Linked DNA regions of Homo sapiens: regions 2 and 3 are each linked to region 1. Evidence: fine-mapped expression QTL. A gene starts in region 1. Each other region holds a variant in brackets. All regions are shown on one strand. Distances are from middle to middle. Region 1 holds the start of AVPR1A (arginine vasopressin receptor 1A). Region 2 has its middle 65 kb from the start of LINC03056. Region 3 has its middle 43 kb from the start of AVPR1A.

Evidence for each region. PIP is the estimated chance that this variant, and not a neighbour inherited with it, causes the effect.
Region 2: its variant is the best candidate, but not a certain one, in a credible set for the expression of AVPR1A in whole blood (INTERVAL, PIP 0.83).
Region 3: its variant is the best candidate, but not a certain one, in a credible set for the expression of AVPR1A in whole blood (INTERVAL, PIP 0.75).

Annotation. Positions count from the first base shown.
Region 1 is chr12:63,146,957-63,155,142 of GRCh38, reverse strand. It overlaps AVPR1A (arginine vasopressin receptor 1A), which reads left to right and starts at 3,942. Exons shown (of 2, transcript NM_000706.5): 1 at 3,942-5,276; 2 at 7,498-8,186. The coding sequence starts at 4,307. The coding sequence ends at 7,784.
Region 2 is chr12:63,434,708-63,442,893 of GRCh38, reverse strand. No RefSeq gene overlaps it. Among named protein-coding and RNA genes, the nearest start is that of LINC03056, 65 kb to the right of the region's middle. The variant T/C (reference allele first, on the strand shown) is at 3,799.
Region 3 is chr12:63,190,583-63,198,768 of GRCh38, reverse strand. No RefSeq gene overlaps it. Among named protein-coding and RNA genes, the nearest start is that of AVPR1A, 43 kb to the right of the region's middle. The variant G/AG (reference allele first, on the strand shown) is at 4,666.

The DNA.
Region 1 (8,186 bases):
ATCAATTTAGAAAGTTTATTTTTGCCAAGGTTAAGGACACTCCCATGACACAACCGAACAAAGTCCTGATGACATGTCCCCAAGGTGGTCAGGGTACAGCTTGGTTTTATACATTTTAGGGAGACATAAGACATCAATTAATATAAGTAAGATGTACATTGGTTCAATCTGGAAATGTGGGACAACTCGAAGCGGGAGGTTTCAGGTCATAGGTAGATAAGAGACAAATGGTTGTGTTCTTTTGAGTCTTTAGTCTTTCACTGAATAGATAACTTACATGTGAAGAGGGTAGAGGAATAGTCACTTATGCCTTAGTCTGGCTCAGTGAATCTGCATTTTTACTTAAACAATAGGGCAGAAGAAGCAATCAAATATGCAAAGAAACACAAAAAGTGGCTCAACATTCAAAGACAGGTTTATTTTGGAGAATAAACCTGAGAGGGGCTTCTGGCCAATTTCAGTCAGGAGCATTCTCTGTTACAGACTAAGAGTATTAATTGGTTTAAGGGTGAGAGAACTTATCACCGGCGTGGAATGTTTCTGTATAACGGAGAAGTCAGTTGCAGGGTTGGAATGTATCTGGTTGGAGGGGAGGTTATCTTGGGGCTGATATGTCTCTGGTCAGGGAGGGGTTTGGAATGTTTCTGGTAAGAGATGTTATTTGTGGCTCATGGTCATTCTGGCCTTAGCCATTAGGCTGATGCCCTTTGGATTTAGGTGGTTTTTGATCAAGGTGAACTTTAAAATGGCAGGATGGTGATGCTCCTGCTCTGTCACCTTGTCTTGTGACATGTTCATCACCATTCCATGGGGAAAGTAAAAAAATGGGGAGTTTCCATGGTAAAATAACCTTGGAAAACATTGATGAACAAGGTTAAGTAAGTTTCTTTTCTGAAGTTTCTCAGGTCCTTTTTATGTATAAATCACCAGGAGAGGGTGGGATGCATACACAGCACTTCTCCAACATATTTAACCATAAAACTCTTCTCATTGCACATATGTAAATTGGGAATATTTTGCTTTAATTGGAAGGGAAAATGTTAATGGTAAAATAGCTGGTAATTTGGAGGATTTACATGTATGAAAAAAAGAAAATGTTTTGAACACCGATAAAATGCCAGAAATTTAAACAACCATTTATATAATCTTTGCAGCAACTGCATTGTGTTTAATCACCAAGATTTTACAGTGAAGAATTTGAAACTCGAAGATGAAAACAAAGTCTTACTGCTAGTAAGTGAAGGAGATAGCTGCTTCCATGAACTGAAGTACTTCTCAAATATCTGGAATTATGAAGTGAAAGGAAAGAAGATTGGTAAATGAAAGAGAATGATTATTCCAGGATATGTATGCACAACTTCCTTATTTTTTTCATTATTTCACCCCTAAAATTTGTTAACTGAAGTCTACAAAGAGTAAGAGGGAAAAGGTAAGTCTTAATAATACAAAAAGTACAGAGAAAATGTAAATTGCTCTAAGAAAAAGCACAAGGTGCCACATAAAATATTGTCTGTTGTGTTTTCTTTTTCATATTTTAAGACCACAATTATTTTACTCTCTATGGGGTAATTTAATAGCAGGTCCAGTGAGGCATATGAGTAGTGCCTCATATGTAATAGTCCTGCTTTCCTTTGTATATAAAACCAGTTAAATTAAGTCAAAAACATGTTTAAAACTATATGGATTAAACAAAGGGACTGGTTCTACAATCTGCAATGAACATTTTTTTTTCCTGCTTTCCAGGCCCCATGGCATCCAGCACAACCAGCGAGAGACAGATAGATGGATGATAGATAGATAGATAGATAGATAGATAGATAGATAGACAGATAGATAGATGATTGATTGACACATGATACATAGAATGGCCAGATGCATACATATAAACATACATCTATGTATCAAGCATATATACATTTGATATATATGGATAATTGGTACTGTTGTCACTGAACAATAATATCTTCCAACTGTATCCACCAACATAACTTGAGAGGTTATTTTTATAATTTGGATAATTGGATATAGTTTTATAATTGGATCAGATTGTCTGACACAGATGATTTCCTGAGAGGCCACCACCCTATCTCCTGGAATAAGAACCTCCACAGAGATATTGGTGAGCCTGTATTGCAGATTTCCTCTCCTGAAAAAAACCTAAAAGCTCAAGTGTGTAGGGCCAAGAGCCACAAAATTACTAGGCTGTGGCCAACAAACCACTTTTGCAATACCCAGACACTAGGTTCAGTCAACATTCTTTCTCATCAGGAGCACTAATAGTGTAATTTGTGACTTAAAAGAAAGTGAATTCTCTGAGTCAGTGACTATTACCTAATTGCTTGAAGGATTTTTTCCAGACAGGTGGTCTGGAAACCTTTTACCTATTACCTTCCATCCCTGAACCATTTCAATCTTCTGCCTCCTGGATATCTTGGAGAAAATGAACCAACACAACACAGCTTTCAGTTTTTAGAGCATTTCCCCCATACAGAACATTGTCTTACTTGATCTTCCCGATGACCTCAACAACAGGAAAGGCAGGTCCTTTCATTTCCATTTATAAGACGCACAGACCCAGGATTATCTAGCCACAGGAAGCAGGACTCCAGATTTCAAGTCCAGCATCTCAACGTGACAACCTTGGTAACTCTGCATGAACGGACTGGATAGTAAAGTGGAATTATTACTGAGAACTGCAATGAATAAAATCTTTTGCATTTTTTGCCTACGTTTCACAGAGGGTGATATTTTTCTGAGGCAATTAAATTTATACCACGGCCACAATACTGAAACGTTCTGACCAACAAAGTCATGCTCCTGCATCTACACAGCAGATAACTGCAGAAACGGCTTCCTTTCTTCCTTGTAAAATTGCCTGAAAACAGCTCCCCCTTGCTGTCCGTCGAGGCATATCTTCACCAACGTTAAAACAGAGCTGAGGGAGATCGCATTTCTGCCTCCCTCCCGCCCTGCAGAGGGGCTCCAGCTGTTCAGAGTAACGGATTACTAGGTAGGTGGTTGTTTCCCCTCCTTCCCAGGGCCTCTTTCCTCTCTTTGAGATTGCCTCTTTCTTACTCCTGAGCACAGGAGCCGGGCGGGTTTTCTGTCCCTTGCCCTGGACAGCACTGCCTGGATGGCCGCTGTCCGGCAGCTGCTCTTTGTCCACCCAAAAAGATGTCCCCACGACTCAGTAGTAACCAGACGGTCCCCACGGACCACTGCGGCCAAATTTCCGCCATCCCCGCTGTGGGAATCAGGCTTTTCCCGCAGAAAACCCCAGGAATCTAGAGAAAACTCCTTAAGTCCCTAGTCTCCATAGAGAAAACCAGGAGACACTCCCCCCAAACCCCGCTGTGAATACAGGCACAGCAGCCACTGGGGCTGCAAAGTGATGAGTGCGTTCTTCCCGTCGCAAACATAGGGTAATAAATAGCATGCATCAAAGACGTTACTAGGAAGAGATAGCTCTTTAAGTCACGAGCGGGGAGAAATGTTTGCCCCGGGAAAATTTGCCTGGGGAATAAAATTTGCCAGACTGCTGCACGGGTGAGCTCGGTGAGAAGGAAGAAACCCGGACTGGAGGAGGTGAGGTCGAGAGCCAGGTTCAGGTGCAGGAGCTAGATGCGTGGACGCCGGTGCGTGGACTGGAGGTTTCCAGGTACCGCGCTTAGCGTGCCTGTTGAAGTCAAATGCATGGTTAAGGAGGCTAGCGAGGAAGGCTAGTGAGGGAAGCTTGTGGAAACGGCTACGAGCCCAGAAAAGGCATGACTCGTCCAGTTGTCCAAGTTTTTGGAAGGGAAAAGCGGGAAAGCGCCACGATCCCACCTACTGTGAGGAGGAATCTGCGAGTCTCCCAGCTCCACCCCCTCCACAGTGATGCAGAGGACAAACACCGACGTAGGGAGAGGAAAAAATAAAACTCCAGGGAGCGGGGAGTAGGCAACCAGCAGTCTTCCGGCAATAGGGCGGGAGGGAGCGCGTCCCAAGGAAACAAGCACCGCATAAATACTTGAGTTGGGAACCCAGTGCTTCCGGAAGCTCGGAGCTCACCTTCCCGACCTCGCCGAAGTTGAAAAAAGGCAGAGCAGGGAGAGGGGCCAGCTCACCCTGCTGAGAGCTGCTCAGTGGGCAGGCGGGACGCTGCTCCGGGAGACGCCCACTGGAGGGATCGCAGAGCCCGGCAAGCTGCGAGCGCGCCAAAGACCCTGCGCTTCGGACGAGGAGCCCAAGTCCTCCGAGACGGGGAGGGAGCGGCCCGCGAGGGCTGGAGCTCCGAAGAGGGCCGAGTAGGAGCTGCATGGACAGCATGCGTCTCTCCGCCGGTCCCGACGCGGGGCCCTCGGGCAACTCCAGCCCATGGTGGCCTCTGGCCACCGGCGCTGGCAACACAAGCCGGGAGGCCGAAGCCCTCGGGGAGGGCAACGGCCCACCGAGGGACGTGCGCAACGAGGAGCTGGCCAAACTGGAGATCGCCGTGCTGGCGGTGACTTTCGCGGTGGCCGTGCTGGGCAACAGCAGCGTACTGCTGGCTCTGCACCGGACGCCGCGCAAGACGTCCCGCATGCACCTCTTCATCCGACACCTCAGCCTGGCCGACCTGGCCGTGGCATTCTTCCAGGTGCTGCCGCAAATGTGCTGGGACATCACCTACCGCTTCCGCGGCCCCGACTGGCTGTGCCGCGTGGTGAAGCACCTGCAGGTGTTCGGCATGTTTGCGTCGGCCTACATGCTGGTAGTCATGACAGCCGACCGCTACATCGCGGTGTGCCACCCGCTCAAGACTCTGCAACAGCCCGCGCGCCGCTCGCGCCTCATGATCGCGGCCGCCTGGGTGCTGAGCTTCGTGCTGAGCACGCCGCAGTACTTCGTCTTCTCCATGATCGAGGTGAACAATGTCACCAAGGCCCGCGACTGCTGGGCCACCTTCATCCAGCCCTGGGGTTCTCGTGCCTACGTGACCTGGATGACGGGCGGCATCTTTGTGGCGCCCGTGGTCATCTTGGGTACCTGCTACGGCTTCATCTGCTACAACATCTGGTGCAACGTCCGCGGGAAGACGGCGTCGCGCCAGAGCAAGGGTGCAGAGCAAGCGGGTGTGGCCTTCCAAAAGGGGTTCCTGCTCGCACCCTGTGTCAGCAGCGTGAAGTCCATTTCCCGGGCCAAGATCCGCACGGTGAAGATGACTTTTGTGATCGTGACGGCTTACATCGTCTGCTGGGCGCCTTTCTTCATCATCCAGATGTGGTCTGTCTGGGATCCCATGTCCGTCTGGACCGGTACGTGCCGGGAAAATAGAGGAAAGTGCAGGGATAGGAGTGTGTGTGTGTGTGTGTGTGTGTGTGTGAGAGAGAGAGAGAGAGAGAGAGAGAGAAAAAAATGAGAATCTAGCAATTTTCTTCATAGTATCTTCTAGGGCAGTAGTTTTTAAACTTCTATGTGTACATAAGAGTCGCACCTTGGAGGAACACTGTTTAAAAAAAAAAAAAGCATATTCCTGGATTCCCCATGCAGACATTCTAATTAAGAATGTCTGGAATGGGGCTCAGGACTCTGCATTTGTAGTGTGCAATGATCCTAAGACCACAATTCCAGAAACTGTGTCCTAGAGTCAGCCAAGCAACTACAAAGCCGAAGAATGACTTTTGCTAAATCACTAGCTACTGTATTAACACCATTTCAGGTCTATTGGATTCAGGGAAATATTTTTACTGTCACAACTGCTTTTTGTTGGATTGTGAAAAGTATTACAATTAATTTTAAAAATGTGTAGAAATGCCTCAGGGGCAAGGATAGAAACAGATATATATTTCTAAAGAAAGCTGGAGAAAAATTCTTTAGAAGGTGAGTAATTCCAATTTGGCATTTAGCTAATAATGTTCCTTTCTCGTTATAATCTATTTTTTTCTAACAATGATTAATAGTTTTTTCTTGGTATTTCAAAGCAGAATTATTGATAAACTAAATTCATTAGACTAATTCATTAGTCTTTCACCACTCATTTGACCACACGGCTCTACATCTCTCCACCCAACTCTTACAGTAGTTTACTGGAAATGTTCTCTGCACCTACTATTGTGTTTGATTTTAATTCCTTCCCAAACTAGAAAAACTAACTTCACAGTGACTTGCAAAAAAAATTATTTAATTTTGCATCTTGAAAATATTTTCTTCTAGTAAAGACAAAAACTCAAACTAAATAAATTCCAGTGCTTGTCGGAACTCAAACCAAATAAATTCAATGGTACAGTTGTTACCAGAATGTTTCTGGTAACAGGAAATAGGTATCTGGGAGTAGCTGTTCTCCTTTTGCTTTTTGGAATTGGAGTAGGGGAGGTATGTAATATGCTTTGGAAGTTATATTTGCAAATAAAACATTTCAGTATGAATTTAACTTAAATATTCTTACTGACTATAATACTAGCGATAATGAAAAATACAATATAAACACTTTATTTTTGGTTTGCTATTTCTTATCTTGCTTGATCTTAGAAGCCTCTTCATATTGTCCATCAAATAAAGAAATTCAGTCTAATTATTGCTTTAGCAGAATTTACACTCAAGTAATAAAAACTTCAATTGTGCATAGATATGTTGGTAATTTTCATTCTTTGTGAATACCATCTTACCCATGGCTCCTGATCACCTTTGATAGCAGCATCTTAGCACTAAGTATGATTAAATAATAACCTGTAATTGTTTTCTGGCATAACAAGAGTGAGAAGATCCAAGTTTATATTTAATAATCAAGGAAAAGTCAGTGTTTATTGATTATTCTTATTTTTAGAAAAGGTATATTATCAGCACTGTAGCTCCACTGTGAAAGGTTATAATATTTATGCAGTTTACCAGTGCTAATTATCATAAAATATTTTAGAATCCTGTTGGAATTTCCTAATTCTACTGTTCTTCTTAATATAATTTGTTTGAACCACAACCACAGATGGTTTTCCAAATTTCTAACCAAAGAAAAACAACTAAAGCTTATATCATCCAGGGACTTCTTCTGTATGGTTTTCATATTATAAGAATATTTAAAACTACTAAACTTGATCCCTAATGCAATATTTTTTCCTGAGTTATTAGGATAAATACAATTTGGTATACATGGTTATTTAAAATTATCTTAAAATTTCATTACAATTGTAGCCATTCTGTAACTGCTGTGTCATTAGCACATGCTAGTTCGAGTATAGAAGATAGAGATTTTTTAAATCAATTACTTAATAGTCTTAACCTCGTAAAATTCCCACTCAATTCTATTTAAATATTTTGATAGTGTTTTAAAAATACTTGAATTAATTTTAAGGCATCTTGCTTACAAAAATATTTTATAGTCAAGCAATTTTCAAACACTCCCCATTTCCCTGATTGATAAACAAAATAGTTCATTTTCTATGATAATCCAGAAGTTTATGCCTTCTTAATTAGTTAATAGAAAAATGAGTTTATCCATGGTTCACTTACATTACATGATTTCCCTTTATATTTTTCATGCAGAATCGGAAAACCCTACCATCACCATCACTGCATTACTGGGTTCCTTGAATAGCTGCTGTAATCCCTGGATATACATGTTTTTTAGTGGCCATCTCCTTCAAGACTGTGTTCAAAGCTTCCCATGCTGCCAAAACATGAAGGAAAAATTCAACAAAGAAGATACTGACAGTATGAGCAGAAGACAGACTTTTTATTCTAACAATCGAAGCCCAACAAACAGTACGGGTATGTGGAAGGACTCGCCTAAATCTTCCAAGTCCATCAAATTCATTCCTGTTTCAACTTGAGCCTTGCATTCATGCAACTTGATTCTTGTGATTGACTTTTTGGCTCATTAGCTGAATTGAGCTAGAAATCACAAGAACAAATACACTTTATTAATATAACCATAAATCAATTCATTGTGTATGAGACTGTGTTTCTAGTTGCATTTTCATATTGCTACCAAAAACTAGACATTATTTTGTATGGAATATTAATGGAAACATGCTGTACTAAAATATGCAGGTCTGATTCCCAGAAATACAACAGAAGTTATATTTTTAAAGGAAAAATCATAACCACCCTAGCTTTATATTTTGTTGTTAGTTTCTTTTATTTTCATTTCTAACATAAGTAAGACTTGATTGGTTTAAAAGTCACATAAAATGCGGCACTATTTCTGAACAAAGAGAGCTCATCATCAGTCT
Region 2 (8,186 bases), 290 kb before region 1:
GTCCCAGCATATAGTCTGTTTTGGTTACTATCCCATGTTCACTTGAAAATAATCCTACAGTTGTTGGGTAAGATCGTGTGTAAATGTCAAGGTCGAGTTGGTAAATAGTGTTGTTCAATCTGCCCTCACCTTCTCCAGTTTCCCTGATTTTTTCTGATTTTTTTTTTTGTTGGCTCTCTCTACACATTACAGAATGACCTATATTAAAATTATGATTATAAGCTTGTCTATTTCTCCTTTTGGTTCTTTTGGTTCTGTCCATTTTCCCTTCATTTATTTTAATTCATATTGTAAGTAATACATGTAGGATTTTTATGTCTTTCTGGTGAATTAGACCATTTATCCATATGAAATGCCCATTTTTTCCTCTAGAAATATTTTTTGTCCTCGTATCTCATTTGATTGATATTAATATTTCCACATCAGTTTTCTTATGGTTAGCACCTGTACGATGTAGTTTTTCTTTTACTTTTAACTATTTGTATCTTTATGTTTAAAATATATCTCTCGAAATAGCAAATAATTGGTCTCTTTTTTAAAAATTCCATGACAATATCAATTTTTAAAATTAGTGTTTATCTATATTTTATGTAATTACTGATACAAATTTAACTAATTTACTATTTTAAAACATTTGCTCCCTTCATTCTTTTTTCTTTTATTCTTTTCTCTTTCGAATTAACAGGTTTTTTCCCATTCCATTTTATTTTTTCCTGTCTTTTTAGTTACAACTCTTTGCATTACTTTTTTTAGTGTTCACTCTAACTGGTGAAACTCCCCAATATGGTAGCCACTAGAAAAATGGGGCTGCTTAAATTTAAATTTACATCAATCAAAAATTAAATAACTGCACAAATTTAGTTTCTAGTTGTGGATTTTCTCTCTCTCCCTCTCTCTCTCTCTCTCTCTCTCTCTCTCTCTCTCTCTCTCTCTCCCTCTCTCTCTCTCTCTATATATATATATATATACACACACACATATGCATATATACTTACTTATTTGTTATATGTAGGATCATAACCTCCTGCAATGGGATATGTGATAGCAGACACCAATTGCAAAAAAAAACAATCTTAATGCTCATCCCTGAGCCTAGTGTCAATCCTTTCAAACTGGAAGTGGATAAAATCTATCCTCACCTTCTCCAGTTTCCCTTTCTGCTCTTCCTCCCCTGGTTTCCCCTGTGAACTCCTCTTCTAGATGTCACAAAGGATGAATTTCGTCAGGGTGTGGTCCTATGCCCTCTTCTCTCCTCACTGTACATTTCCTGGGTGCTCTTACTTAGCCCTACAGGAAGACTGTGTCTTATATTAACTTAACCTGGAGGCTGTTTGTCCAGGGTCTACTGTCTATTGGACAGAATCACCTGAATGTCTTACTATCAACATATTCCCAAATAAAAAAATTACCTGCTGTGTGATCCTTCTTTTGTAGTCCTCTTCTTGGATTGGTGGTATCAACTTTACCTCACTCCAGTATGCAATGATTTACTAACTCTTAGTACTTATACTTCTAAAATATTTGAAAATGTGTTCTATTATGTCCAGGGCTCACAATATCACATAAGATGATGAGACAACATCTTAAATAAATAAATGTCATTTGAAGTTCCAAGGAACTTTTTTCTCAAATGCATTTTTTAAGATACTTTTCCCAAAGTTGTTCTAGAATGCAAATCTAATCATGTTTTTTTCTCTGTAAATAAATACACAAATTACAACAACAAAAAGCCTTTGTTTGTGTCTCATTTCCTATAGGATAACACTACTACCGCCATTACTACAATTTCACTGCTAGTTTTCTTTTGGCTACCCGTAATACTACAATTACTGCTACTGCTACTATGATTTCTAACTTCCATTTATTGAGCATGTACTATCTACTGGGCAATGACTACTTTATGTAATATACCACTTAAAAACAAGAACTTTAGTTTAGACACATCTATGTTTTAATCATACTGCAGCCATTTAATAGAAAATTATTTAATCTCAGTTTCCTCAACTGTAAAATGTGGATAATAATAATATCTAAGGTATAACATTATTCTCTGAGAATTGAATGAGATAATCATGTAAAGCACATGACATTATATAGTAAGTGGTCAATACATAGTAGCTATAGTATTAATATTATAACAATTGTTATAAACACATTATCTATCATTTCTAGCTCAATCCTGAGTCTTATCCTCAACTTGACAAGCAAATAAATTAGGGTTCAGAGATATTAAGTGTAGAGATGTTAAGTCCAAGTTCATACAGCTAAGTAGCCCAGCTAGCATACAAAACCATGATCTTTTCACTGTCCCTTCATGCCATATTTGTACATTTCAAAAAGCTGGTTGTACCTAATTTCCCAGGATCACCTTTTCTGCTTTTTCTCTAATCCTCTCTTCTTGACCCAATGAACCAATTCTTGTCTGTCCTCACAGCAGATCCCTCAGTATCCCTGAATATGTGATGACATTTCCCTCCCACATTCCTTGCCCCCTCTCCTCCAGCTTTGTCCTTCCCCAGGCTCAGTGCTTGTGACATCTCCTCTGCCAAGCTGTTCTAGCATCTGCCTGCTGCCTGCTCTCTCTTCACCTCCCACTACCGCACCTCTTTAAACTTACATGCACGTCAGACTGTTATTCATTTATTTGCTTATCTTTCCAGTTCGCTGAGTTTCTCTAGGACACGAAGTTTGGATTTACTAATTGGCAAATTCCTAGGCCTATAATTAGTATTTACTGTGTGTTTCCTTAAATAAATAACAAATGAATAAATGAAAAAACGAATGAGTGAAAAATATGTTTAAAGGCATTTGAAGTTGAGAGAAGAAATCAGAGTTAGGAAGGGAAGTATCTCATCTTTCCTTTCTGTTTCCTGTGCTAAAGTTATGCATCCTCTGGGCTTGGTTGTTTAGTGAGCCTTCTGTGATTATCAGCAGTCAGGCAGTGCTAGTACTACAGGTTACACAGGACTACTTTAGCCTTTGTTTCTAAGTGATTACTTAGGTGACTTGAAGGAAGTTGGGATAGACTTCCTGGCTTGACCTTACTTGGATTTTATTATATTTTTCCAGCTGACTGCATGGAAACCAGTTGTAAAAGGCAGAGAATTACCAGAGAATACCTGGGCTGAATGCACCATATACCCTTCAAGTGATTAGGGTCTAAAAACCTCTGGGATGTGTGTGGGGTTTTTTTTTTTTTTTTGGTTTGTTTTCTGTCCTGGGCAGACACTGAAGTATTTTCCAGACTAGAGAAAAGGGACACGCAAAAGAGAAACACTGGGCCATGAGACACAGGACGGTTTCAGACAACGATAAAAGAAAAATATGTCAAGGGAAAATCTATAAAGCTATCAACATGAATAACACAGTAGATATCAGAGCATATAACTGAGGACAACTCAGTACCATGATATGGAAATCATGTGCATAAAGACAAACCATGTGAAGGAAACTAAAGAAAAATTAAACTGTATAACACAATAAGAAAGTTAGATTTCCAGAAGTGACAAAACATGAGCAATTTAATTTGAACAGTTTGTGCAAGTAAGCTTGTGCCTGCAGCACTGTGGTATATAAAAAGAAATTTGGAAGTGTTATTATGCCCACTACTCTTATTCTTTGGATGGTAATTACCAGACAAACCAAAAAGAAAGGGGTTGATATTTTTAAATCCCTACTATGTGGCAAGCAATTTACATAAAATATCTAATTGGGTCTTTTCAACAATTTATGAGATACATATTATTATTCCCATTTGCTCAGGGAGGTCAAAAAGTGTGACTAAGGTACATGGTGCAG[T/C]AGCAGAGTCAGAATTCAAACCAGCATTTACAACTTGGCTGTTTGGTGCAAGATGTCTAGCTGTTGGTCTGTCTTGGCTGAAAATTTTTTTTGTCATATTGACACAAACTCTTTATTAGCAATAAATAAATAAACTTTTTTTGCAACAAAGAGAATTTTTTTCACATAAGAATAGAAGGTGGCTGTGCAAAATGGGTACCTACAACCTGCCACATAATGTAAGAAAAATCCCAACAATTAACAATTCATTTTTTCAATAGCGTATTAATCACAGAACAATTAAACAGCTAGGTAAAAAAAAAAACCCTACCTATATATTAGAAATACATTTCAAGTCACCCATAGTTTCAACATACTTTAAAATGGATAGAAAAAATTTTAACTGGCTTTACAAAACAGTACCTATTTAACTAACTCATGTACCATTGCTTAAAAAGTATACGCAGAATTCTAACCTCAATATTTCCTTGCAAATCGGCCTTTAAATTTTTATCTTGTTATATTTTTTAGGGACAAGGTCTTGCTCTATTACCACTGTAGTGTAGTGGAATGATCATAGTTCACTGCAGCCTCAAATTCTTGGCCTCAAGTGATCCTCCCAACTCAGGCTGGCTAATTTTTAAGTTTTTTTGTAGAGACAAGGTCTTTTTTTTTATATATATACTTTAAGTTTTAGGGTACCTGTGCACAACGTGCAGGTTTCTTACGTAAGTATATGCGTGCTATGTTGGTGTGCTGCACCCATTAACTCGTCATTTAACATTAGGTATATCTCCTAATGCTATCCCTCCCCCCTCCCCCCACCACACAAGAGGCCCCGGTGTGTGCTGTTCCCCTTCCTGTGTCCACGTGTTCTCATTGTTCAATTCCCACCTATGAGTGAGAACGTGCGGTGTTTGGTTATTTGTCCTTGCGATAGTTTGCTGAGAATGATGGTTTCCAGCTTCATCCATGTCCCTACAAAGGACATGAACTCATCATTTTTTATGGCTGCATAGTATTCCATGGTGTATATGTGCCACATTTTCTTAATCGAGTCTATCATTGTTAGACATTTGGGTTGGTTCCAAGTCTTTGCTATTGTGAATAGTGCCACAATAAACACACATGTGCATGTGTCTTTATAGCAGCATGATTTATAATCCTTTGGGTATACACCCAGTAATGGGATGGCTGGGTCAAATGGTATTTCTAGTTCTAGATCCCTGAGGAATCGCCACACTGACTTCCACAATGGTTGAACTAGTTTACAGTCCCACCAACAGTGTAAAGGTGTTCCTATTTCTCCACATCCTCTCCAGCACCTGTTGTTTCCTGACTTTTTAATGATCGCCATTCTAACTGGTGTGAGATGGTATCTCATTGTGGTTTTGATTTGCATTTCTCTGATGGCCAGTGATGATGAGCATTTTTTCATGTGTCTGTTGGCTGCATAAATGTCTTCTTTTGAGAAGTGTCTGTTCATATCCTTCACCCACTTGTTGATGGGGTTGTTTGTTTTTTTCTTGTAAATTTGTTTGAGTTCATTGTAGATTCTGGATATTAGCCCTTTGTCAGATGAGTAGGTTGCAAACATTTTCTCCCATTCTGTAGGTTGCCTGTTCAGTCTGATGGTAGTTTCTTTTGCTGTGCAGAAGCTCTTTAGTTTAATTAGATCCCATTTGTCAATTTTAGCTTTTGTTGCCATTGCTTTTGGTGTTTTAGACATGAAGTCCTTGCCCATGCCTATGTCCTGAATGGTATTGCCTAGGTTTTCTTCTAGAGTTTTTATGGTTTTAGGTCTAACATTTTAAGTCTTCAATCCATCTTGAATTAATTTTTGTATAAGGTGTAAGGAAGGGATCCAGTTTCAGCTTTCTACATATGGCTAGCCAGTTTTCCCAGCATCATTTATTAAATAGGAAATCCTTTCCCCATTTCTTGTTTTTGTCAGGTTTGTCAAAGATCAGATAGTTGTAGATATGTGGCATTATTTCTGAGGCCTCTGTTCTGTTCCATTGGTCTATACCTCTGTTTTGGTACCAGTAACATGCTGTTTTGGTTACTGTAGCCTTGTAGTATAGTTTGAAGTCGGGTAGCATGATTCCTCCAACTTTGTTCTTTATGCTTAGGATTGACTTGGCAATGTGGGCTCTTTTTTGGTTCCATATGAACTTTAAAGTAGTTTTCTCCAATTCTGTGAAGAAAGTCATTGGTAGCTTGATGGGGATGGCATTGAATCTATAAATTACCTTGGGCAGTATGGCCATTTTCACGATATTGATTCTTCCTACCCATGAGCATGGAATGTTCTTCTATTTGTTAGTATCCTCTTTTATTTCATTGAGCAGTGGTTTGTAGTTCTCCTTGAAGAGGTCCTTTACATCCCCTGTAAGTTGGATTCCTAGGTATTTTATTCTCTTTGAAGCAATTGTGAATGGGAGTTCACTCATGATTTGGCTCTCTGTTTGTCTGTTATTGGTGTATAAGAATGCTTGTGATTTTTGCACATTGATTTTGTATCCTGAGACTTTGCTGAAGTTGCCTATCAGCTTAAGGAGATTTTGGGCTCAGATGATGGGGTTTTCTAGATATACAATCATGTCATCTGCAAACTGGGACAATTTGACTTCCTCTTTTCCTGCCTTTTTTTGTTTTCCATTTGCTTGGTAGATCTTCCTCCATCCCTTTATTTTGAGCCATGTGTGTCTCTGCACGTGAGGTGGGTTTCCTGAATACAGCACACTGATGGTTCTTGACTCTATCCAATTTGCCAGACTGTGTCTTTTAACTGGAGCATTTAGCCCATTTCCATTTAAGGTTAATATTGTTATCAGTGAATTTGATCCTGTCATTATGATGTTAGCTGGTTGTTTTGCTCGTTAGTTGATGCAGTTTCTTCCTAGCCTCGATGGTCTTTACAATTTGGCATGATTTTGCAGTGGCTGGTACCGGTTGTTCCTTTCCATGTTTAGTGCTTCCTTCAGGAGCTCTTTTAGGGCAGGCCTGGTGGTGACAGAGTCTCTCAGCATTTGCTTGTCTGTAAAGGATTTTATTTCTCCTTCACTTATGAAGCTTAATTTGGCTGGATATGAAATTCTGGGTTGAAAATTCTTTTCTTTAAGAATGTTGAATATTGGCCCCCACTCTCTTCTGGCTTGGAGAGTTTCTGCCGAAAGATCAGCTGTTAGTCTGATGGGCTTCCCTTTGTGGGTAACCCGACCTTTCTGTCTGGCTTCCCTTAACATTTTTTCCTTCATTTCAACTTTGGTGAATCTGACAATTATGTGTCTTGGAGTTGCTCTTCTCGAGGAGTATCTTTGTGGCATTCTCTTTATTTCCTGAATTAGAATGTTGGCCTGCCTTGCTAGATTGGGGAAGTTCTCCTGGATAATATCCTGCAGAGTGTTTTCCAACTTGGTTCCATTCTCCCCGTCACTTTCAGGTACACCGATCAGACGTAGATTTGGTCTTTTCACATAGTCCCATATTTCTTGGAGGCTTTGTTTGTTTCTTTTTATTCTTTTTTCTCTAAACTTCTCTTCTTGCTTCATTTCATTCATTTGATCTTCCATCAGTGATACCTCTTCTTCCAGTTGATCGAATCGGCTACTGAAGCTTTTGCATTCATCTTGTAGTTCTCATGCCGTGGTTTTCAACTCCATCAGGTCCTTTAAGGATTCTCTGCATTGTTTGTTCTAGTTAGCCATTCATCTAATCTTTTTTCAAGATTTTTAACTTCTTTGCCATGGGTTCAAACTTCCTCCTTTAGCTCAGAATAGTTTGGTCGTCTGAAGCCTTCTTCTCTCAACTTGTCAAAGTCATTCTCTGTCTAGCTTTGTTCCATTGCTGGTGAGGAGCTGCATTCCTTTGGAGGACGAGAGGTGCTCTGATTTTTAGAGTTTCCAGTTTTTCTGCTCTGTTTTTTCCCCATCTTTGTGGTTTTATCTACCTTTGGTCTTTGATGATGGTGACTTACAGATGGGGTTTTGGTGTGGACGTCCTTTCTGTTTGTTAGTTTTCCTTCTAACAGTCAGAACTCGCAGCTGCAGGTCTGTTGGAGTTTGCTGAAAGTCCACTCCAGACCTTGTTTGCCTGGGTATCAGCAGTGGAGGCTGCAGAACAGCGGATATTGGTGAGCAGCAAATGTTGCTGCCTGATCATTCCTCTGGAAGTTTTGTCTCAGAGGAGTACCCGGCCGTGTGAGGTGTCAGTCTGCCCCTCCTAGGGGGTGCCTCCCAGTTAGGCTACTTGGGGGTCAGGGACCCACTTGAGGCAGTCTGTCCGTTCTCAGATCTCAAGCTGCGTGCCGGGAGAACCACTACTCTCTTCAAAGCTGTCAGAGAGGGACATTTAAGTCTGCAGAGGTTTCTACTGCCTTTTGTTTGGCTATGCCCTGCTCCCAGAGG
Region 3 (8,186 bases), 44 kb before region 1:
GGTTATTGTGTGGGAGTCTACATCTCTTTGTAGGTCTCTAAGAACTTGCTTTATGAATCTGAATGCTTCTGTATTAGGTGCATATATATTTAGGATAGTTAGCTCTTCTTTTTGCATTGATCCCTTTACCATTATGTAATGCCCCTCTTTGTCTTTTTTGATCTTTGTTGATTTAAAGTCTGTTTTAATAGAGACTAGGATTACAACTCCTGCTTTTTTTTGCTGTCCATTTGCTTCATAAATATTCCTCCATCTCTTTATTTTGAACCTATATTTGTCTTTGCATGTGAGATGAGTCTCCTGAATACAGCAAACTGATGGGTCTTGACTCTTTATCCAATTTGCCAGTCTGTGTCTTTTAATTGGGGCATTTAGCCCATTTATATTTAAGGTTGATATTATTATGTGTGAATTTGATCCTGTCATTATGATGCTAGCTGGTTATTTTGCCCATTAGTTGATGCAATTTCTTTGTAGTGTCAATGGTCTTTACAATTTGGTATGTTTTTGCAGTGGCTGGTACCAGTTCTTCCTTTCCATGGTTAGTGCTTCCCTCAGGAGCTCTTGTAAGGCAGGCCTGGTGGTGACAAAATCTCTTAGCATTTGCTTGTCTGTAAAGGATTTTACTTCTCCTTCACTTATGAAGCTTAGTTTGGCTGGATATGAAATTCTGGGTTGAAAATTCTTTTCTTTAAGTATGTTGAATATTGGTTCTCACTCTCTTCTGGCTTGCAGGGTTTCTGCAGAGAGATCTGCTGTTAGTCTGATTGGCTTCCCTTTGTGGGTAACCTGACCTTTCTCTCTGGCTGCCCTTAACATTTTTTCCTTCATTTCAACCTTGGTGAATCTGATGATTATACGTCTTGGGGTTGCTCTTCTTGAGGAGTATCTTTGTGATGTTCTCTGTATTTCCAGAATTTGAATGTTGGCCTGCCTTGCTAGGTCGGGGAAGTTCTCCTGGATAATATCCTGAAGAGTGTTTTCCAGCTTGGGTTGTATTTTCCCTGTCACTTTCAGGTATGCCAGTCAAACATAGGTTTGGTCTTTTAACATAGTCCCATATTTCTTGGAGACTTTGTTCATTTCTTTTCATTCTTTTTTCTCTAATCTTGTCTTCATACCTTATTTCATTAAGGTGATCTTCAATCTCTGATATCCTTTCTCCCACTTGATCGATTTGACTATCGATACTTGTGTATGCTTCATGAAGTTCTCATGCTGTGTTTTTCAGCTCCATCAGGTCATTTATGTTCTTCTCTAAACTGGTTATTCTAGTTAGCTATTCATCCAACCTTTTTTCAAGGTTCTTAGCTTCCTTGCATGCTCCTTTAGCTCAAAGGAGTTTGTTATTACCCACCTTCTGAAGCCTACTTTTGTCTATTCAGCAAACTCTTTCTCCATCCAGTTTTGTTCCCTTGCTGACAAGGAGTTGTGATCCTTTGGAGGAGAAGAGGCATTCTGATTTTTGGAATTTTTAGCCTTTTTTAGGTGGTTTTTCCTTATCTTTGTATATTTATCTATCTTCGGTCTTTGATGTTGGTGACCTTTTGGTGGGGGTTTCTGTGTGGACATCCTTTTTGCTGATGTTGATGCTATTCCTTTCTGTTTGTTAGTTTTCCTTCTAACAGTCAGGCCCCTCTGCTGCAGGTCTGCTGGAGTTTACTAGAGGTCTACTCCAAACCCTGTTTGCCTGGTTATCACCAGTGGAGGCTGCAGAACAGCAAAGATTTCTGTCTGTTTCTTTGTCTGGAAGCTGCTGCCTCTCTTTCAGAGATGCCCTGCCCAGAGAGGAGGAATCTAGAGAGGCAATCTGGCTACAGAAGCTTTGCTGAGCTATGGTGGGCTCCACCCAGTTCAAACTCCCTGGCAGCTTTGTTTACACTGTGAGGGGAAAGCCACCTACTCAAGCCTCAGTAATGGTGGACGCCCCTCTTCCCACCAAGCTCAAGCATCCCAAGTCAACTTCAGACTGCTGTGCTGGCAGTGAGAGTTTCAAGCTAGTGGATCTCAGCTTGCTGGGCTTTGTGGGGGTGGGACCTGCTGAGCTAGACCACTTGGCTCCCTGGCTTCAGCCCCCTTTCCAGGGGAGTGAACAGTTCTCTCTCACTGGTGTTCCAGGTGCCACTGGGGTATGAAAAGAAACTCCTGCAGCTAGCTTGGTGTCTGCCCAAACAGCTGCCAACTTTTGTGCTTGAAACCCAGGGCCCTGGTGGCATAGGCACCCAAGGTAATCTCCTGGTCTACAGGTTGTGAAGACTGTGGGAAAAGCATAGCATCTGGGCTGGAGTGTACACTTCCTCAAGGCACAGTCCTTCATGACTTCCCTTGGCTAGGGGAGGGAGTTCCCTGACCTTTGTGCTTCCCGGGTTCCGGGTGAGTTGATGCCCCACCCTGCTTCGGTTCACTCTTTGTGGGCTGCACCCACTGTCTAACCAATCCCAATGAGATAAGCTGGGTACCTCAGTTGGAAATGCAGCACCTTCTGCATTGATCTCGCTGGGAGCTGCAGACCTGAGCTGTTCCTATTTGGCCACCTTGCCAGTCGGGCGCCGAAGATCAATTTCTTAAACTTAATGCCTTCATCTTCCCCTCAAGGAAGACATGTACTTTAGCTTGCTTATTCTCTCCCTCCCCAGCCTCCACATTCAAGAATGTCTGTCTTATCAATAGTTCTGGAATGTCATGAATATACTTTGTTTGTGGCTTCTGCTAATCTTCACTAAATTATTTACACAACCTTTCCTTCCCATGTAATGTACAAATTCCTCCTGGAATCTCTCTGCTGTTAGACTTCCAGCAAAACTGCTTTTGTTTTTACTTGCAAGAACTTCTGAGGGTCATTCTTTGTCTGAGAACATCTTTATAGCAATTCACATTTAAATTACTGCTTAACTGGATAAAAAATTCGGAGTTCAAAGTTTTTGTTTTTCATCACCTAGAAAATATTGCTACATTATCTTTCTCTTTCCTGTGTCTCTGTTCTAAAGTTTTATAGCAATCTTATTCTGTTTTCTTAATGTGTTTTTCTCTTTCTCTCTGGAAACTTAAAAAATGTTCTCTTTGATGTTTTCAAATTTCATGATATTATGTTTGCACGAGGTACTTCTTTTTCTACCTGTTTTGATATTGAGATAGTTTGGCTCTTAATTTTTTCCATATTTCCTATATTGTAACACACAGATCTTCAGAGTTTCTCTTTCACCACCATGTTCGTTAACCTTACTTTAAGGAAATTCCTCCTTCTGACACCATTTGGGAGAATTCTTTGACCAGCTCATTAGCATATTTGAACTATATTCTTTCCAATATTTAGCCCAGCTTTCTAATATTTTACCTCTACTGTAATGTTTTTTATATTCATGGTTTCCAATTGGCTCTTCATTTTTCTTTATTTTATTTTATTTTTTTGAGACTCAGTCTCACTGTATCATGCATGCTGGAGTGTAGTGGCACAATCTTGGCTCACTGCAACCTCCACCTCCCAAGTTCAACGAATTATCCTGCCTCAGCCTCCCGAGAGCTGGGACTACAGGCATGCACCACCATGCCTGGCTAAGTTTTGTATTTTTAGTAGAGATGGGGTTTCACCATGTTGGCCAGGCTGGCCTGGAACTCCTGACCTCAGGCAATCCACCCACCTCAGCCTCCCAAAGTGCCGGAATTGCAGGCATGAGCCACCACACCTGGCCCTCAATTGGCTCTTCTTTATAACTGAATATTCCTGTTTCTTTTTTATCTCTTGGGAGAAATGTATTATGTTTATTTTGAAGTTTTGTTTGGTCTGGTTCAACAATTCTGCCTCATCTAGAACAAATTATTCATCTGCTATGTCCTTTAGAAAGTGGTTATATTCCTCGTATGTTTGGTTATTATTCCTGAGAACTCATTTATCCCTGGGGGTATGGGTTGCTTAGGCTAGCAATGGGGTAGGGGTGGAAAAGCACAGGCCCCAGCTTATTCACTCCTGTGACTTTAAGTGGCCAGGGAGGGGAGATGGTTTTCCCCTCAGAGAACCTTCCTATTTTTTACCCACTCATTGCTCTTTTCCAAAACATTAATGCCCTTATGATCTCCTCTAGGCTGCCTTTCCTCCCTAGGACACAACTACCTTCTGTCTCCTACTTTATCCTTGGTCCTTCAGATTTACACACTTTCCTCTCACTTTGAAATCATCCCTCAGTATTGGGTAGGAAGATGGAACCTTCAGCTTGTGCTAGTTGGCCATTGTAACATTGTGTCTACTCATCCCTAGCACTCTTTCCATCCTCATTCTTCTCCCATTGCTCCCCTCCTCTGCCTTCAAAGAAAACATACAGAGGCACACATTAGGATAGTGCTCTTCATCCGACCAGGCACGGTGGCTCACGCCTGTAATCCCAGCACTTTGGGAAACCAAGGTGGGTGAATCGCTTGAGGTCAGGAGTTTGAGACCATCCTGGCCCACCACCAACATGGTGAAACCCCGTCTCTACTAAAAATGCAAAACTTAGCCAGGCGTAATGGCAGGTGCCTGTAATCCCAGCTACTGTAGAGGCTGAGGCAGGAGAATAGCTTTAACCCAGGAGGAGGAGGTTGCAGTGAGCTGCGATCTGATCATGCCAATGCACTACTCCAGCTTGAGCGACTAAGCGAGACTCTGTCCCCCCACCAAAAAAAAAAAAAAAA[G/AG]AGGATAGTGCTCTTCATCCAAAAACCTGGTGGGGCAGTGGGAAGGAGTAGAATGAAGAAGATATACATAAAAGAGCAAAGATAAATGGGTTGTGTTCCTCTGCAGCTCAGTGACTTCTATTTTGTGGATTTCTACTTAGAGGAACTTCATTTTGAATATGGTTCTCAACCTCAGCTACACATTATAATCATCTGTAATTTCAAAAGCTTTCTAGGTGATTCTAATGTGCAGTCAGGACTGAGAATCACCTGACATACAGCAACCAGGTGTACCCTACCTTAACCTTTGCTGTTCTGGACAGAAAGGAACACTAGATATTCCAAACTGGCTTCAACTTTGCAGATTTGAAAGTGTGGGAGAAATCAGATAAGGCAAGACACACAGGTAAGGAATCACTAATACAAACATCAAGAGACAGATATTTCCCAAAATCATTTCTGGAATCACACAACATGGTAACAAGTTTATAGTAGGAAAGTTTATAAGAATGTAGAAAATCCAAGCTGCTCTGATATAAGACAACATCCTTGATATCAGTCGAGTAGCACTTAAAAACTGCCATTGGGATGTGGAACGCCACTAGAAAGCCAAATTGGAAGGCAAAGTATTTACTCTTTATGTCAAGTAAAAACACAAGATTGCAATAAATGCATCTTTTTTAGTCAAGAACAAAAATGTGAATCTCTTTGGTTCCATAATTTTCATACTTATAAAATTACCCTATTCATTTTATGAGGTGTTTAAAGTATTCGTACATGAGGGATGTCTGGGCCCTACAGATAACTCATGTGGCAGTTTGGTCTGTAATGTGAGGGTCTTGCTACGAGGAAATACTCTTTACCTAATGTGAAGTTGATCACTTGACGTGACCTAAAAGAATGTGATGTGTGAAAGCAACACTAAAGTTTCTCAAAATACATCTCTGTGGCTGAGAAAGAATTGAGCCGAACAAAATTGGCTTTCTCTATTTCTAGATATTCATTTTGAACTATGTTATCAGAGTTTCGGCAAATATTTATTTTAGGCTTGTGTCGTATGAGGCTCTGTGCTGGGGACTACAGGTCAGGCGTCAAGCAGCTTAAACTCCTTATTATTTCCTAAAATATCATTATAAGTGTGCTGTCAGAACTATTGATTTTATTGGATTAACTCAGTCTTTTGGGGAAATAGTCTGATAATTCAAAATTCAAATTTCCTATCAAGGATGCTTCTATCCTTTCAAAGAGTCACACTCCCCCTCCTCCTTCCCATCATGAGGCCTAGTTCAAAGGGATGCCTCTGCACCGCACACCATGAGACTTTGGGAAAGGGGACCCTTGCCTCTACTGGTTCCCATTGGCCTCTGGTTGAGGTTTAACTTGTATTTCCTGGCTTCTCTATGTGAAGCCTTGATGATTCTCCTGCTAAAGTTCTGCAGCTGGTGGAATTTGGGGTGTGTCCTCACTGCATGGCAGGGAATTCCAGCCTCCTTCCTGACTTGCTTTGCTTCCATCATAGCTTTCATTGATGCTAAGATGGTTCAAGTCTCAAGCTTGTCCTCCATCTGTCCCCTGGCTTAGGCTGCCCATGTCCCTAGACTCTGCCATGGAGTAACCTGAACTGTCAGTCACTGGAGCATACTGGAGCTGCTGGCTCCTGCTCATGCTACACAGGAGCATTTTTCCGTCCTATTTCTGGCAGCACACCAATTTACTAAAAGCCAGTTTGTATAAAGACCGATTTTTATATTTTCCTAACCAGCTTTTTGTTGACCGTCTTTTTTGTTTTTATACCATACAAGCAGTTTAATAAGTGTTCATTATGTCTCTGCCTCAGCTTCTTGTTCTGCAGTTGAAGACTGAGAAACAGATGAGTGACAGAAGGATGGAACAGTGGAAAAATCGAGGGATGTGATAAAATCACAGTCAGAAAATTGTATCTTCACATATCTACATGAATATGTAGATATGAATACCCCCTTCATGAACACAAAAATACAGATACACTTTTTTTTTTTAATACTTTAAGTTTTAGGGTACATGTGCACAACGTGCTGGTTAGTTACATATGTATACATGTGCCATGCTGGTGTGCTGCACCCATTAACTCGTCATTTAGCATTAGGTATATCTCCTAATGCTATCCCTCCCACCTCCTCCCACCCACAACAGTCCCCAGAGTGTGATGTTCCCCTTCCTGTGTCCATGTGTTCTCATTGTTCAATTCCCATCTGTGAGTGAGAACATGTGGTGTTTGGTTTTTTGTCCTTGCGATAGTTTACTGAGAATGATGATTTCCAGTTTCATCCATGTCCCTACAAAGGACATGAACTCATCATTTTTTATGGCTGCATAGTATTCCATGGTGTATATGTGCCACATTTTCTTAATCCAGTCTATCATTGTTGGACATTTGGGTTGGTTCTAAGTCTTTGCTATTGTGAATAATGCCGCAATAAACATACGTGTGCATGTGTCTTTATAGCAGCATGATTTATAATCCTTTGGGTATATCCCCAGTAATGGGATGGCTGGGTCAAATGGTATTTCTAGTTCTAGATCCCTGAGGAATCGCCACACTGACTTCCACAATGGTTGAACTAGTTTACAGTCCCACCAACAGTGTAAAAGTGTTTCTATTTCTCCACATCCTCTCCAGCACCTGTTGTTTTCTGACTTTTTAATGATTGCCATTCTAACTGATGTGAAATGGTATCTCATTGTGGTTTTGATTTGCATTTCTCTGATGGCCAGTGATGGTGAGCATTTTTTCATAAGTCTGTTGGCTGCATAAATGTCTTCTTTTGAGAAGAGTCTGTTCATATCCTTTACCCACTTTTTGATGGGGTTGTTTGTTTTTTTCTTGTAAATTTGTTTGAGTTCATTGTAGATTCTGGATATTAGCCCTTTGTCAGATGAGTAGGTTGCGAAAATTTTCTCCCATTTTGTAGGTTGCCTGTTCACTCTGATGGTAGTTTCTTTTGCTGTGCAGAAGCTGTGTAGTTTAATTAGATCCCATTTGTCAATTTTGGCTTTTGTTGCCATTGCTTTTGGTGTTTTAGACATGAAGTCCTTGCTCATCCTTATTTCCTGAATGGTAATGCCTAGGTTTTCTTCTAGGGTTTTTATGGTTTTAAGTCTAACGTTTAAGTCTTTAATCCATCTTGAATTATTTTTTGTATAAGGTGTAAGGAAGGGATCCAGTTTCAGCTTTCTACATATGGCTAGCCAGTTTTCCCAGCACCATTTATTAAATAGGAAATCCTTTCCCCATTGCTTGTTTTTCCTAGGTTTGTCAAGGATCAGATAGTTGTAGATATGTGGCGTTATTTCTGAGGGCTCTGTTCTGTTCCATTGATCTATATCTCTGTTTTGGTACCAGTACCATGCTGTTTTGGTTACTGTAGCCTTGTAGTATAGTTTGAAGTCAGGTAGTGTGATGCCTCCAGCTTTGTTCTTTATGCTTAGGATTGACTTGGCGATGCGGACTCTTTTTTGGTTCCATATGAACTTTAAAGTAGTTTTTTCCAATTCTGTGAAGA